Homo sapiens: one gene and its partners. The protein of the gene in region 1 purifies or fractionates together with the protein of each later gene. This does not show direct contact. Each region holds a gene or a part of one and is shown on either strand. Other genes may lie near its edges.

The links.
Region 2: the proteins of TENM4 (region 1) and TRPM4 fractionate together in Homo sapiens (co-fractionation; one large-scale study listed by BioGRID). This does not show direct contact.
Region 3: the proteins of TENM4 (region 1) and CLEC4A purify together in Homo sapiens (co-immunoprecipitation; one large-scale study listed by IntAct). This does not show direct contact.
Region 4: the proteins of TENM4 (region 1) and EVA1C purify together in Homo sapiens (co-immunoprecipitation; one large-scale study listed by IntAct). This does not show direct contact.

What each region holds. Positions count from the first base shown.
Region 1 is NC_000011.10:79,434,531-79,438,030, forward strand, and holds part of TENM4 (teneurin-4), read right to left. Parts: intron 1-3,500. UniProt on the Homo sapiens protein: Involved in neural development, regulating the establishment of proper connectivity within the nervous system. Plays a role in the establishment of the anterior-posterior axis during gastrulation.
Region 2 is NC_000019.10:49,171,292-49,174,791, forward strand, and holds part of TRPM4 (transient receptor potential cation channel subfamily M member 4), read left to right. Parts: intron 1-65; coding exon 66-127; intron 128-286; coding exon 287-478; intron 479-717; coding exon 718-817; intron 818-3,500. UniProt on the Homo sapiens protein: Calcium-activated selective cation channel that mediates membrane depolarization. While it is activated by increase in intracellular Ca(2+), it is impermeable to it.
Region 3 is NC_000012.12:8,126,617-8,130,116, reverse strand, and holds part of CLEC4A (C-type lectin domain family 4 member A), read right to left. Parts: exon of another isoform or gene 2,017-3,500; coding exon of another isoform or gene 1,929-2,016; intron 854-1,928; coding exon 755-853; intron 1-754. UniProt on the Homo sapiens protein: C-type lectin receptor that binds carbohydrates mannose and fucose but also weakly interacts with N-acetylglucosamine (GlcNAc) in a Ca(2+)-dependent manner. Involved in regulating immune reactivity.
Region 4 is NC_000021.9:32,415,706-32,419,205, forward strand, and holds part of EVA1C (protein eva-1 homolog C isoform 1 precursor), read left to right. Parts: intron 1-3,500. UniProt on the Homo sapiens protein: Binds heparin.

The DNA of each region.
Region 1 (3,500 bases):
TTGCTGGCTGAAGCACTCCAGAAAGTGATGATTCCAAGAGCCAGGGAAGAAAAATGTTCTTGGAAAAAGAATTTGTGTATCAGTTCAGCAGAACAGCTCAAAATTATGCAAATTCCCTGCTTGAAGTTTGACTGTCACCCCTGCCTTCTTCTACCACCTGGGCTTCCAAGCCTGTAAGGGACTGCAAAATAAATAGCCATATTCTGGTTAAAAAGATGAAAGAGACATCATGGTTTACCTAACTGCTTTTCATGTGTGACAGAAGCTTTAGTATGGTATCTGCCTTTAACCCTGAAATGCTACTTTCTAGGAATTCATCTTAAGGAAATACTAAAACTACACAGTATGTACAAGGATGGTTACTACAGTCTTGTTATGATAATAAAAAAAAATAAACACAAAGTCAAAAAATTAGGTACTCATTAAATTATATCTGTCATACTATAACATTGGGGGTCTATGTAGCATTACAAATGTCACCGTAGGAGGAAAAGAGAGCATGAAAAGTTTTGCATGCTTTATCATTAGATGAAAATAAGCATTCAAAACACTATACTAGGATCTCATCATTTTTTCTACATTCATAAAGTCACAAGGTACAACCCAAAATGTGGTGGAACATTTTGGCTTTGCTTTTCTCTGTAATGCCTGAATTTGCTACAGTGAGCACATATTACTTTGGTCATTAGAATAAAGACTGTAAAAGAAAAAAAAAGTAATAAATATATAACCCCGGAAGCAATAGGCACATATATCTACATGGCTTCATTAGACATTTTCCATACAGAGAACATTCAGGGATCCATGTTTGCTTGGCTCCCTGAGAACTGGGGCATATTACTTTCAAAGTGGCCCCCACAGCCCATCTGCCAGTGCAAAGCAAAGATGGAGTGATTCAGCTTTCAGTTACAATAAAAGCCAAGCTGATAGACCATGTAAGAAGGCAGGTAGAAATCGGCCCCTTAGATCTAGAATTGACATTGATTTACCCTGCTAGGCTCTTGGAATCAAATCTGCAAGGAGGTGATTTAAATCCTATTCTTCTTTTGTTTAACTTTTTAGATTAATGGATGTGGGAGAAGTTACTGGGACAGGAACTACAAAAGGTTTGGGCTGGGGCTGTGTAGCTGTTTGTTAGACCAGGACAGGGGCTGAGAACCCCGGGCGGAGACTTGCACCACTGGTGCTTATCAAGTCTCATTTTCCTTCAACCTCTAGCACAATTAGAGTGTGAGCTGGCATCTTAAATTGAGTCTTTTGCTTGTGTTGCCCAACAATCTTTAATTCCTAATCACCTTCTTTTCCCTTATTTGTAACTTTTGATTTGGAAATATCGGGTTATGTAACATGTCAATCTGCATGAGGATGCAACTCTGTCAGAAAAAGGGACTCAATGAAGCACAAATTCTAACAAAACTGGAAATGACTTTCCTAAGAAAAGAAAAGAAATTTTCATTTCACGCATTTGAAGCTGGTTTTAAATAGGCTGGATGCAAGGTTGGTGGTTCTTTCGGGGCTGTTGATTTCTCTGCCCAATCTCCACCCAACAAATGCAGGATGCTTCCTGGAAGGGGATAAGGAGGTAGAAAGGAACAAGCATCTGTGAAGGGACCACAGTATGCCAGAGGCCTTATCGATGTTAAAACTGACAGTGTTCAATAATATGAAAGATTTAAAAAGATGAGGAAATGTTCTAGGTTAAAAGAGTTTAAAGAGACATGAAAAGCTGAATGAACTCATAAGCCAGGATTTTCTATTGCTATAACGGACGTTATTGGGACAATTGGAAAAATCTGAATAAAGTTTATAGACTGGATCATAAAAAAAAACCCTGACAGTGTTGCAAACTAAGTAATATTGTGCCATTTTACAGGGGAGAGGACTGAAGCTCCAAAGACAATTTGCCTAAGGCCACAGAGCCATGATTCCAACCCAATAGTTAAGAGATTAAAGTCACATCCTATCACCTTACTCCCACAAAACCACAAAAGATTGAGGAGACTATACCAAATAGAATCAGATTCTATTGGAAGAGAGTCCGTGGGAACCCATTACTCTAACACCTAGCCTTCTACCTCATATTCCAGGTCACTCCACTCACTATAGAACTATCCTTTGATGGTTCTTGTTCAGACCAAGCACTAGTTCTGCCCGTTGGCATCCGCACTGGTCAAGGCCGGTCTATTAGGGTGGCTGATCCGCTTACCGCACCACTCTACCTCCACCCCCAAACAGAGGCCTTGATGAAAACAAGATGAGAGCAGAGGAAGAACCCAAGAACTCTTTCTAGAAAACCAAAGCTCTCCGTCCCTGATCCCTTCCCCCACCACAGAAGATGGCAATTCCACAAGCCTTCCGCACCCTGCCCTCCCCTCAGTTCAAGACACATGCTGGAAATAAAAGCTTCCCCGAATTAGCCCCCTAAAAGCACACAAACATCTATGCCCTAAGTCCTGGCTGAATATCTTGAGGACTTTCAGTTCCCCAAACATTTCCAAGGACCTACGGCACACAGGTGCCGCTAAAGGAGACACCCGTTCACTCCAGGCAATCAGCTCCAACAGGTCCAGTTCCACTAAGTGGAAGGGCTTCCCGTCAACACCCTCACCGGAGAAAACGGATTCCTCCTCAGCATTCCCTTATAACACCTGGAAAGGGGAAACCTGTTTTTTGTGCTATGTGTGACTTCGCTGCAAATCTCTCTGCTCCCCAACACATGCACACACACACACACAGGCGCGCAGAAAACTAGTTCCCACTGTCACCACCAGTGAAAACACCCCTCGTAACTTTGACGAGAAGGGCTCCCCCGCTGAAAGCCCAACTGCAGAGCGCCCGGAGCGCGCTGTGAGTCCGCAGGAACGCGGCCGGGCCGGGGACGGGAGAAAGGCGCGGCCGGGACCCTGCACTGTGCCGCGCGGCGCTTGCGGCTGGAACTTGGCCTGGAACGCGGTCTTCTCGGCTCCAGTTTCCCGCCCAGGCCCCGCCCACCCGGCCGCCCCGCTGGTTCGCACCGCTGCTCCGGCCACCGAGGAGCCCAAAGTTGGCGGCGTCCCGCGGACTCCGGCGGAGAGCGCGAGGGAGTCGCGGCCGACTCCTGTACCACGAAGACAACTGGAGGCCGGCGGGGGAGGCGGGCCACGAGGGGCTGGGGCGAGGGAGCTGGGATGCGCGGGCCCGGCTCGCCGGGAAACAGGTTGCCGCGGAGTCCCGTCCCCTCCCCCTCTGCGGTCCCCGCCGCGACCTGATTCCCGCCCTGCCCGGGGAGCTAACCCAGCCGCCTCCGGGGCGCCCTCCTTCTTCCTGGATTCCCACGGCTGGACCAGAGCCCCTCTGGCAGCCGGGTTAAAGGCTCCTTCAGCAAGGTCAAGGCGCGGCCGGCTGGCACCTGGGGATTTTTTTCCAGCCGAGCACTGGCTTTTCAATCGCATTGTTAAGGATCATGGCAGCGGCAGGAAATCCGAAGGGCCCCACAGGTCTGCGGGAGGGAGGATTTATTT
Region 2 (3,500 bases), on another chromosome or scaffold:
GTTTTCTCCTATCTCCAGCAAAGGCTGATGGGAGGTAATCAAGCCCCCTTCTCTTCTTGCCTCAGGGACTGGAATTGACATCCCTGTCCTGCTCCTCCTGATTGATGGTGATGAGAAGATGTTGACGGTATAGGGGCCCGGATGCCCGGATCTAAGGGGGAAGGAGGGTTGGGGGCCAGGACTCCTGGGTCCTGAGTCTTAGGGAGGGTCTGGGGGTCTGACTCCGGGTAGGGTGAATATCCTGCCTTTTCTGACGTGATGAATAAAGAATGCCTTTATCCTGTAGCGAATAGAGAACGCCACCCAGGCTCAGCTCCCATGTCTCCTCGTGGCTGGCTCAGGGGGAGCTGCGGACTGCCTGGCGGAGACCCTGGAAGACACTCTGGCCCCAGGGAGTGGGGGAGCCAGGCAAGGCGAAGCCCGAGATCGAATCAGGCGTTTCTTTCCCAAAGGGGACCTTGAGGTCCTGCAGGCCCAGGTATGACACTGGGGGCCCAACTCTGGATCCTGAGATGGGAGGGAACTGGGGACTTGGGCTCCTGGGTCTGAGGGAGGAGGGGCTGGGGGCCTGGACTTCCAGGTTCCGGGAGAAGAGGGTGCTGGGCATATAGACTATTAGGTCCTGGAGGGGAATGGCCTCCTCCATCCCTTTGGACAGGGCCCAACAGGAGTTGGGGATGGAGGCGGGCTAGGGATGCAGAACTGGCTATTCCACAGGTGGAGAGGATTATGACCCGGAAGGAGCTCCTGACAGTCTATTCTTCTGAGGATGGGTCTGAGGAATTCGAGACCATAGTTTTGAAGGCCCTTGTGAAGGGTAAAAGTTGTACCCTCCAGTCTTCCCCCTCTCTCAGTTCAACCTTAGACACCTTTCCTGGCCTGGGCACTTCATCCACCCTCTCTAATCCAAGGCCCATGCCCCCTTTACCCCTCTTAATATTTTTCCCCTTTGGGGCTTTGCATGGTGCTATTTGGGCAGTTTTCCCAGATGCTTTCATTATGTTCCAGCATCTGCTTTCCTCTGTTGGATCCATCCATCCATTCTTTCATCTTTCCATCCATCCACATGTACAGATCGATCTTTCCATCTCTTTACCTACCATCCTTCCAGTCATCCCTCATTCTTTCATCCATCCATCCTTTCACCTGTCCATCCACACATCCACTGACAATTCCTGAGAATTCCATCCGCTCATTCCTCCATCCGTCTTCTCACCTGTCCATCCACACATCCACTGACAATTCCATTCAGTCATTCTTCCATCCATCCATCTTCTCACCTGTCCATCCATGCATCCACTGACAATTCCTGAGAATGCCATCTGCTCATTCTTCCATCCATCCATCTTCTCACCTGTCCATCTACACATCCACCGAAAATTCCTGAGAATTCCATCCACTCATTCCTCCATCCATCCATCTTCTCACCTGTCCATCCACACATCCACTGACAATTCCATTCACTCATTCTTCCATCCATCCATCTTCTCACCTGTCCATCCACACATCCACTGACAATTCCTGAGAATGCCATCCGCTCATTCCTCCATCCGTCTTCTCACCTGTCCATCCACACATCCACTGACAATTCCTGAGAATTCCATCCGCTCATTCCTCCATCCGTCTTCTCACCTGTCCATCCACACATCCACTGACAATTCCATCCACTTATTGTTCCATCCATCCATCTTCTCACCTGTCCATCCACACATCCACTGAAAATTCCATTCACTCATTCTTCCATCCATCCATCTTCTCACCTGTCCATCCACACATCCACTGACAATTCCATTCACTTATTCTTCCATCCATCCATCTTCTCACCTGTCCATCCATGCATCCACTGACAATTCCTGAGAATGCCATCTGCTCATTCTTCTATCCATCCATCTTCTCACCTGTCCATCTGCACATCCACTGAAAATTCCTGAGAATTCCATCTACTCATTCCTCCATCCATCCATCTTCTCACCTGTCCATCCACACATCCACTGACAATTCCTGAGAATTCCATCCGCTCATTCCTCCATCCATCCATCTTCTCACCTGTCCATCCACACATCCACTGACAATTCCATTCACTCATTCCTCCATCCACCCATCTTCCATCCATTTACCCATCTACCCATCCATCTTTTCATTCATCCATCCAACTGTTCTTCCATCTATCCATCCACCCACCCATTCTTCCTTCCCTACATGCTTCCAATATACATGAAGCACTCTGGCTAGACATGAACCAAAGCACTGTCTCCCAGTGAGGAAGTCCAGATATTTCACTAGAAATGGCAGCTTGGAGGACGGAATGATGAAAACCAAGGCGGGGGAGCATAATGCACACCTGGGAGAGGCTGGGGAGGGTCTTATTTATTTATTCACTTATTGAGACAGGGTCTTGCTCTGTAGGCCAAGCTGGAGTATAGTGGTGTGATCACGGCTCAGTGCAGCCTCAACCTCCCAGGCTCAAGTGATCCTCCCACCCCAGCCTTCCAAGTAGCTGGGAACATACCCGCCCACCACTACACCTGGTAAATTAAACAAAAAAAAAATTTTTTTTTTGTACAGACGAGGTCTTGCTCTGTTGCCCATGCTGGTCATGAACTCCTGGCCTCAACTGATCCTCCTGCCTCAGTCTCCCAAAGTGCTGGGATTACAGGCATGAGCCACCATGCCAGCCTCCTTTATTTAGTCAACAAATACAATCCTAGGCTCCAGAGACTAAAGCCAACCCATTTCCTGCTCTCAAAGACCCCAGATCCCACTAGGATTGTTTGGATACAACCTTAGGTAAAATTTAAGACAGAAGCACAGGCAAGAATCACTGTCGTTAGAAGGAAAACTTCAAGGAAAAGTTGTGTGTGTGTGTGTGTGTGTATTTTGAGACAGAGTCTTGCTCTGTCGCCCAGGCTGGAGTGCAGTGGTGCGAGCTTGGCTCACTGCAACCTCCGCCTCCCGGGTTCAAGCGATTCTCCTGCCTCACCCTCCTGAGTAGCCGGGATTACAGGCACGTGCCATCATGCCCGGCTGATTTTTGTATTTTTAGTAGAGACGGTGTTTCACCATGTTGGTCAGGCTGGCCTCGAACTCCTGACCTCATGATCCATCCACCTCGGCCTCCCAAAGTGCTGGGATTACAGGTGTGAGCCACTGCACCTGGCCAGAGAAGTTGGCATTTAAACCGGACCTTGGCCAGGCACAGTGGCTCACACGTGTAATTTCAGCACTTTGGGAGGCTGAGGAGGGAAGATCGCTTGAGCCCAGGAGTTTGAGACCAGCCTGGGCAGCATGGTGAAATGCCACCTCTATAAAAAATACAAATAATAAGTTGGGGAGGGTGGCGCATACCTGTAATCCCAGCTACTTGGGTGGCTGAGGCAGGGGAATCGCTCGAACCTAGGAGGCAGATTGTGCCACTGCACTCCAGCCTGGGTGATAGGGCAAGACTCTGTCTCAAAAAAAAAAAAAAAAAACCTAAATAAATAAACCAAATAAACTGGACC
Region 3 (3,500 bases), on another chromosome or scaffold:
CGCCTATAATCCCAGCCCTTCAAGAAGCTGAGACAGCCACATCACTTAAGCTTAGGAGTTCAAGATCAGCCTGGGCAACATGGTGAAACTCCATCTCTACAAAAAATACAAAAATTAGCTGAGTGTAGTGGCGTGTGCTTGTAGTCTCAGCTACTCAGGAGGCAGAAATGGGAGGATCACTTGAGCCCGGGAGGTCGAGGCTGTAGTGAGCCATGTTCGCACTACTGCACTCTAGCCTGGGCAACAAAGTGAGACCCTGTCTCAAAAAAACAACAACAAAAGAATTTTATGTCCTATATATTTGTTTTTTTGTCTTTTGGGTTTTTTTGAGGCGGAATCTTGCTCCGTCGCCAGGTGGAGTGCAGTGGCACAACCTCGGCTCACTGCAACCTCTGCCTCCCGGGTTCAAGCGACTCTCCTGCCTCAGCCTCCCGAGTAGCTGGGATTACAGGTGTGTACCACCATGCCTAGCTAATTTTTGTGCTTTTAGTGGAGACGGGGTTTCACCATTTTGGCTAGGATGGTCTCGATCTGTTGACCTTGTGATCCACACGCCTCAGCCTCCCAAAGTGCTGGGATTACAGGTGTGAGCCACCATGCCCAGCATGTCCTAGATATTTGTACATTTGTAGCTTAAATTATTGTGAGACTCAACTTTTCAGTATGATCTACCTGGGAATCTTACTGGAAATATTGATTTGGGATCCTTACATAGTACATTCAGCAACTGAATTCTAGGCACATTAATTTTTACCTTCCACGGGCATATTTTTTTTCACACACTCCAATGTTGTATGAACCAGCTCTTTTGTAGTCTTTTTTTCAAGAAGCTGAGAATATTTTTGAAAGAAAACTGGAAAAGAGAATAAAGACCATTTATTTTCCTGGTAGCATTATGACTTTGCTCTTTATCGTTACTTTCTTGCATTCTTTATTGAAATAAAACTTACAAATGCCCTATTACTGGAGTAGAGGGAAAAGATTTCCCATACTGAAACTATAGATATCTCTAGGAATAGCTGAAAGATCAGTAGTTGGAAGAGGACACAACAGTTCCATCATAATGGATCTAAAGGGACTCCACATTCTCCTTCAATACTTAATATAAGATGCATGCAAAGGCTAACTCTTGGGGGTGGGGGGATGCAGGGCAATAAACACTTGTATTTAAGGATGTGCGCACCCTGGGACTTTGGAGCAGATGGGAGAGGGGCAAATTAATTCTGAGGAGTTCTGGGTTACCTTGAAGAATGGAGAATTTTAAAAAGAACCCCACATGGATCAAGAGGGCATTATTTTCTTCCTCTTCTCTCCATTACTCTCTCCATCCCAACTGGCTCTTACTCCTCAGCACACCAACGCTCTCATGTTTCTCCCAGTTTAAAACTAACCCACCTCTCCCTCTAGAAACTGAACTTTTGGCCGGGCACATTGGCTCACGCCTGTAATCCCAGCACTTTGGGAGGTCGAGGCAGGTCAGGAGTTCGAGACTAGCCTGGCCAAGATGGTGAAACCTCGTCTCTACTCAAAGTACAAAAATCAGCTGGGCGCAGCGGCAGGTGCCTGTAATCCCAGCTACTCGGGAAGCTGAGGAAGGAGAATTGCTTGAACCTGGGAGGCGGAGGTTGCGGTGAGCTGAGATTGCGCCACTGCACTCCAGCCTGGGTGACGGAGCAAGACTCCATCTCAAAAAAAAAAAAAAAAGAAATTGAACTTTTTGTCTTTCCTCCCTACCTTTCATTTGCTCCTTGACCCATCATAGTCTGGGTTTTACTTCCACTATTTCACTAAAACCATCCCTAAAGTGGATCCTCAGTAATATCCTAGGGTTACTTAGTCCTCTTCCTATTTGACTTCCTTAAAGGCTTGACCCCAGTTGCCTTTCCCCTTAGCTCTTGGGACACTACTCTTTGTTGTTTTTGTCTTACCTTTCTTGCTGCTGCTTCTTACACTCTTTGATGAGCTCCGTTTCCTCCATCCACCTCTTTTAAAATGTAACATTTCCCAGAGTTCCATCCTTATCCGTCTTTCTCATACTAAGTTATCTCCGTGAGTGATATCATATATTCCCACGGCATCACCTGCTACCTCTATGTGAAGGACTTCCAAAGCTCAGACCTCTCTCCCTAAATCCAGACAAATGTGTCTCCCAGTAGACACATCCATTTGAGGTTCTCACAGCCATATAAAACTCAACATGCCCAAAACTTAAATCACCATCTTCCAACCCAAACCTGCTACTGATCCTATATTGTCTACCTCTTTGAAAAACTTAATGATTTCTGAGTTTACAAAGTCAGAATATTGGAGCCATACTTTACTTCTCTGGGTCCCTTATTTCCCAGAACTGAATATTCATCAAGCCTCTACCTCCTTTATCATTCAAAATTACTTCATCTTCTCTTTTTTCGCTAACACTAGCCATAGATCAGTCTGACAATATTTCTCAATTGAATTAATGAATTATCCTTCTAACCTCTCTTTCCCTCCAAATTTGTCCTCATTTATCCATTTTCCACACCTCTGTAAAAATCATGTTTCTATAAGTCCAATCCAATTATATCAATTCCCTGCTTAAAATTCTTCAATTTTCTCTATGACTGTGACATTGCAAAAATGGCCACAACTTTCAACATACCCTGTATCTACACTGCTTTGCAATGTGATTTTGCAGCTTCTTCAATCAAGAAATGTGGTCTATTTCTCCACCGCCTGGATCTGGGCTGCCTGTAAGACTTCTTTTGGCCAATAGAATGTGCAGGAGCAACTCTGCGCTAGTTCCAAGGTGAGATTTCAAAAGGCCTTGCTTACTTCCGCTCTCAGTCTTAAAAGCCTGCCAGTTGCCATGTGAACAAACCCAGGCTACCCTGATGAATGATAAGAGAAACGTGGCCAAATCTCTCCTGCCATTCCATCTAACATCCTGTTCCTCAGAAGCTAAGTTGCCTGTGGCCAGTACCCAACCACATATACATGAGTGAGTTCAGCCAGGACTGGGGAAATCTCCCAACTGACACCAGTCTCAATTGCCAAGACACAGATTTATGAGCTAAATAAATAGTTGCTGTTTTAATCCACTAAGTTTTAGATTGGCTTATTAACCAGCAAAAGATAATTGATAAAATAACCTTTAGGAGGGAAAAAATCCAAACTCTTTATCATGATATACAGCAGTCTTCATGATCTGAGTCCTGTTTCTTTCTGCCACCTACAACTTCATTTCTTAGTTCTTTACTTAGCACCATATGTTCCAGTCATGCATACTTACGTTTCCCCAAATTCCATGCTCTCTCATATCTCTAGGTCATTCTTGGTACACACAGCTCTAGATGTCACCTCCTCCGGAAAGCCTACCTCAGCCTCTTGCACTTATTATACTTCTTAACTGTACAACACTTACCATACAATGTTATAACCACTGGTTCATTTTATCATTCTCTAAATTTCTTGAGACCAGGGGCTGTGGCTCTGTCTTGACTCTCTGTCTGGCACAGTGCCTG
Region 4 (3,500 bases), on another chromosome or scaffold:
TAGTAAACAGGCTCCCCAAACACCGCCTTCTCTCTCATCTCCAAAGATTTTGAGATGTCGCCAGCGGCCACTGGAAGGCTATCATCACTGCATTAAAAATGAATCCCAGCGAAGGCAAGAGAAGTTCATGCAAAATTAGTGCCTCTGATCCTTAATCTCATACTCAAATGTGCTTGGCTTTCATCCACTTTCCTCTTTGGGATAGAGTTCTCTTCATTTGACTGCATTCTCAAATTGAGGATTTGGCTTGAGACGTCTAAATTCATCATTGACTTAAAAAACAAAACAAACCCCAGAAGTATAATGCTATGCCCATAGTTCTTTGTTCAGAGAACAAGACAGGGAGCTGGAGCTTGAGGATGAGTGCTGAGAGGAGGGAGGGGTGCCCTCTTGAGTAGCAGCCATAAAAAGCAAGGGATCCTCATATTTTTGCCTTAAAGAGTGGTGTTTCAGTGTGTCTCTTGTATTTAGTTTGTGATGGTCCCTCAGTACTTACTGTTTTGTGTGTGTGTGTGTGTGTGTGCTTCTAATTTGTGTTGTTTCTCTGCTGAAGGTAAGCTGGGTCTTCTCTTTCCTCCCTGCTTCTTTCCTTTCTCTCCTTTTCTTTTTCTTTTTCTTTTTTTTTTTTTTTTTTTCTTTTTGAGACGCAGTTTCACTCTGTTGCCCAGGCTGGAGTGCAGTGGTACAGTCTCGGCTCACTGCAACCTCTGCCTCCCAGGTTCAAGCAACTCTCCTGCCTCAGCCTCCTGAGTAGCTGGGATTATGGGCACCCACCACCACACCCAGCTAATTTTTGTATTTTTAGTAGAGACATGTTTTCACCATTTTGGCCAGGCTGGTCTCGAACTCCTGACCTCAAGTGATCCACCCACCTTGGCCTCCCAATGTGCTGGGATTATAGGCATGAGCCACCGCACCCAGCCTCTCCTTTTCTTTTTCTTTTGTTTCCTTTTTTCTCCAAGAAGTTCAAAGTGATTGATGGGCTTCTAGGTAGAGGTGGGGAGGAAGGAAGGGAAGGAAAGGGTAGAAAGTTGTTCTAGTTCCCACTTGAATTCCTCAAGAACTCCCACCCTTGGACAAAGTAGACATGACCAAATGTTTCCACATTTGATTTTGTCCTAGGGCACATAGTGGTGAATGTGAGAAGTAGAAGGGACAGGGGATGGGAAACAAGGAGAGTGGGGCAGTCTTTAAGGCCTTCCTTGTACCCAAATGTCCCCAGACCTCAAACAAAGGTCACTCTATAATAGAAGTGTTGTTGTTGTTTTTTAATGGAGTCATGCTCTGCTGCCCAGGCCCGAGTGCAGTGGCTATTTGCAGGTGCAGTTATAGTGCACTGCAGCCTCAAACTCATGGCCTTAACCGATCCTCCTCCCTTAGCCTCCTGAGTAGCTAGGATTACAGGTGTGCACCACCCCACCTGGCCTGGGCCAGTGTTCCAGTCCCTGCCATTGGTAGCCCAAGTGAGCATTAAGTGGTACTTGGTACCAGATTGTATTAATTTGCTAGGGCTGCCATAACAGTGTACTACAGACTGGGTGGCTTACACAAGGAACATTTATTTTATCACAGTTCTGGAGGCTAGAAGTTCAAGATCAAGGTCTTGGCAGAGTTGATTTCTTGTGAGGCCTGTCTCCTTGGCTTGTAAATGGCATCTCCCTGCTGTATCTTCACATGGTCTTCCCTCCATGTGTGTCTGTGTCCTAACCTCCTCTTCTTACAAGGATATCAGTCATATTGGACTAGACTCCTTCAAATGATCTCATTTTCATGTAGTCACCTATTTAAAGGCCCTGTCTCCAAATACTATCATAGTCTGAAGTGCTAGAGATTAGACTCCAATGTTTGAATTTTAGTGGGATGCAGTTCAGCCAAAACTTAGATCATTTGCAGCCCAATAAATAAACCTGACTGATAGCTCTTTATTTCACTGGCCAGGAATTCCAGGGTATAGAAATATGGTAATTCAATTGATCCCGGGGGCCTTGAGGTGGGAACTCAGTATTGATGGACACAGTTGTTCATTTTGGAGAGGTTGAACCCTGTTATTTGCTTTCAGATAAGCATTGGGTCTCAGTCCTGGCAGCACAATAAAATCTCCTGGGGAGACTAAAAAAATATCTATGGACATTCAGGCTGCACCCCAAGACTTCTGATGTAATTGGCCCTGGGAGAGCCAGTCACTGATCTCTTTTTGAAAGCTCCCCAGGCAATTCTAATATGCAGCTAGAGTTGAGGACACCTCTGGAGTTCAGAGGGGAGGGTGACCTTCTGCCCATGCATCAGGTCATCCAAGGGCACAGAGTGTGGCTGGGTGTCCCCTTCACCCCCTACCCTAGGGCTCATCACCAGGGAGACCAGGACTGTATTTCCCCAGCATATCAGCACCTCGCAACACAGACACCTGTGCATGCACAGCCATGCAAACACACGCATGCACACACCCTTCCCTCTGCATTTCATGATGCCTCAGTCACATCATCCTTTTTATTCAAGATTTATCTTTACTTTAAAAAAATTTATGGAGTGAAAAGCCAGCTCGTAACTAAAGAAAAACAAACCAAATGTCCGAAGGAGTTGTCTAGAGGCCACAGAAGAAGAGAGATGAATAGCCAGTGTCTGAATCTGCTCATCTGTTTCCATGGAAAGTGACTACATCTGAAAAGTTTTCTGCCGGCTCTTTTTATGGCAGAGAAGAGTCTCGGCCCACAAGTGGTCCCTGTTATTGATGGCTTTGGTCTCCCAGGTGCTTTATTGGAAAGGGGAGCCTAGCAGCAGTTTCAGGGAAGAAACAGAAAGGAAGAGGGTAAAAGTTAATTGAACTCAGTTTTATCTGATTTCATCCTCGTAGCAACTCTGTGAGATCAGGACCAGTCTCATTTGCAGATGAGAACTCAGCCTCAGAGAGGGTAACAAAGTTGCCCAAGACCACCCAGCTAGGGAGCAGAGCTGAGGCAGGCTCCAGCACCAGGGCTGGCCAGAGTACAGGGATGGGGCCAGGCTGGGGACTTCGCCTGCAAGGGTGTTGGGGGTAGGGAGGAGCAAGGCCAGAAAAAAAAAGTACCACAATTTGCCTAACCTTTCTTGAAAGTTCATGGGGTCATTGCTGCCATTTTGGTTACCTTCTGAATAGACTGACCTTTTCCTACCCTCCCATCAGCATCATTTCATCACAGTCCTTCCAAAGTGGGTGCACTCACAAAGTGGTCCAGTGGGGTAGGAAAAACATGTCAGAACTTCTGTTCTTGCCTATTGGTTTTCCATCTTAATAAAAAAAGGAGTTAAGTTTTGCTTATAATTAACATATAAATTGACAGAACAACATGTAATTTATAAATAAGTGTGCATATATTGGAGATGTGTTCTCAAAATGTTTCTGTTCATAATGTTTTTTATAATTGTTTCTGCCAGTAATAATAATTATTTTTTAAAACTTTTATTTTAGGTTTGGGGGTGCATGGGAAGGTTTGTTGCGTAGATGAGTTCATGAGTTAAAAAAA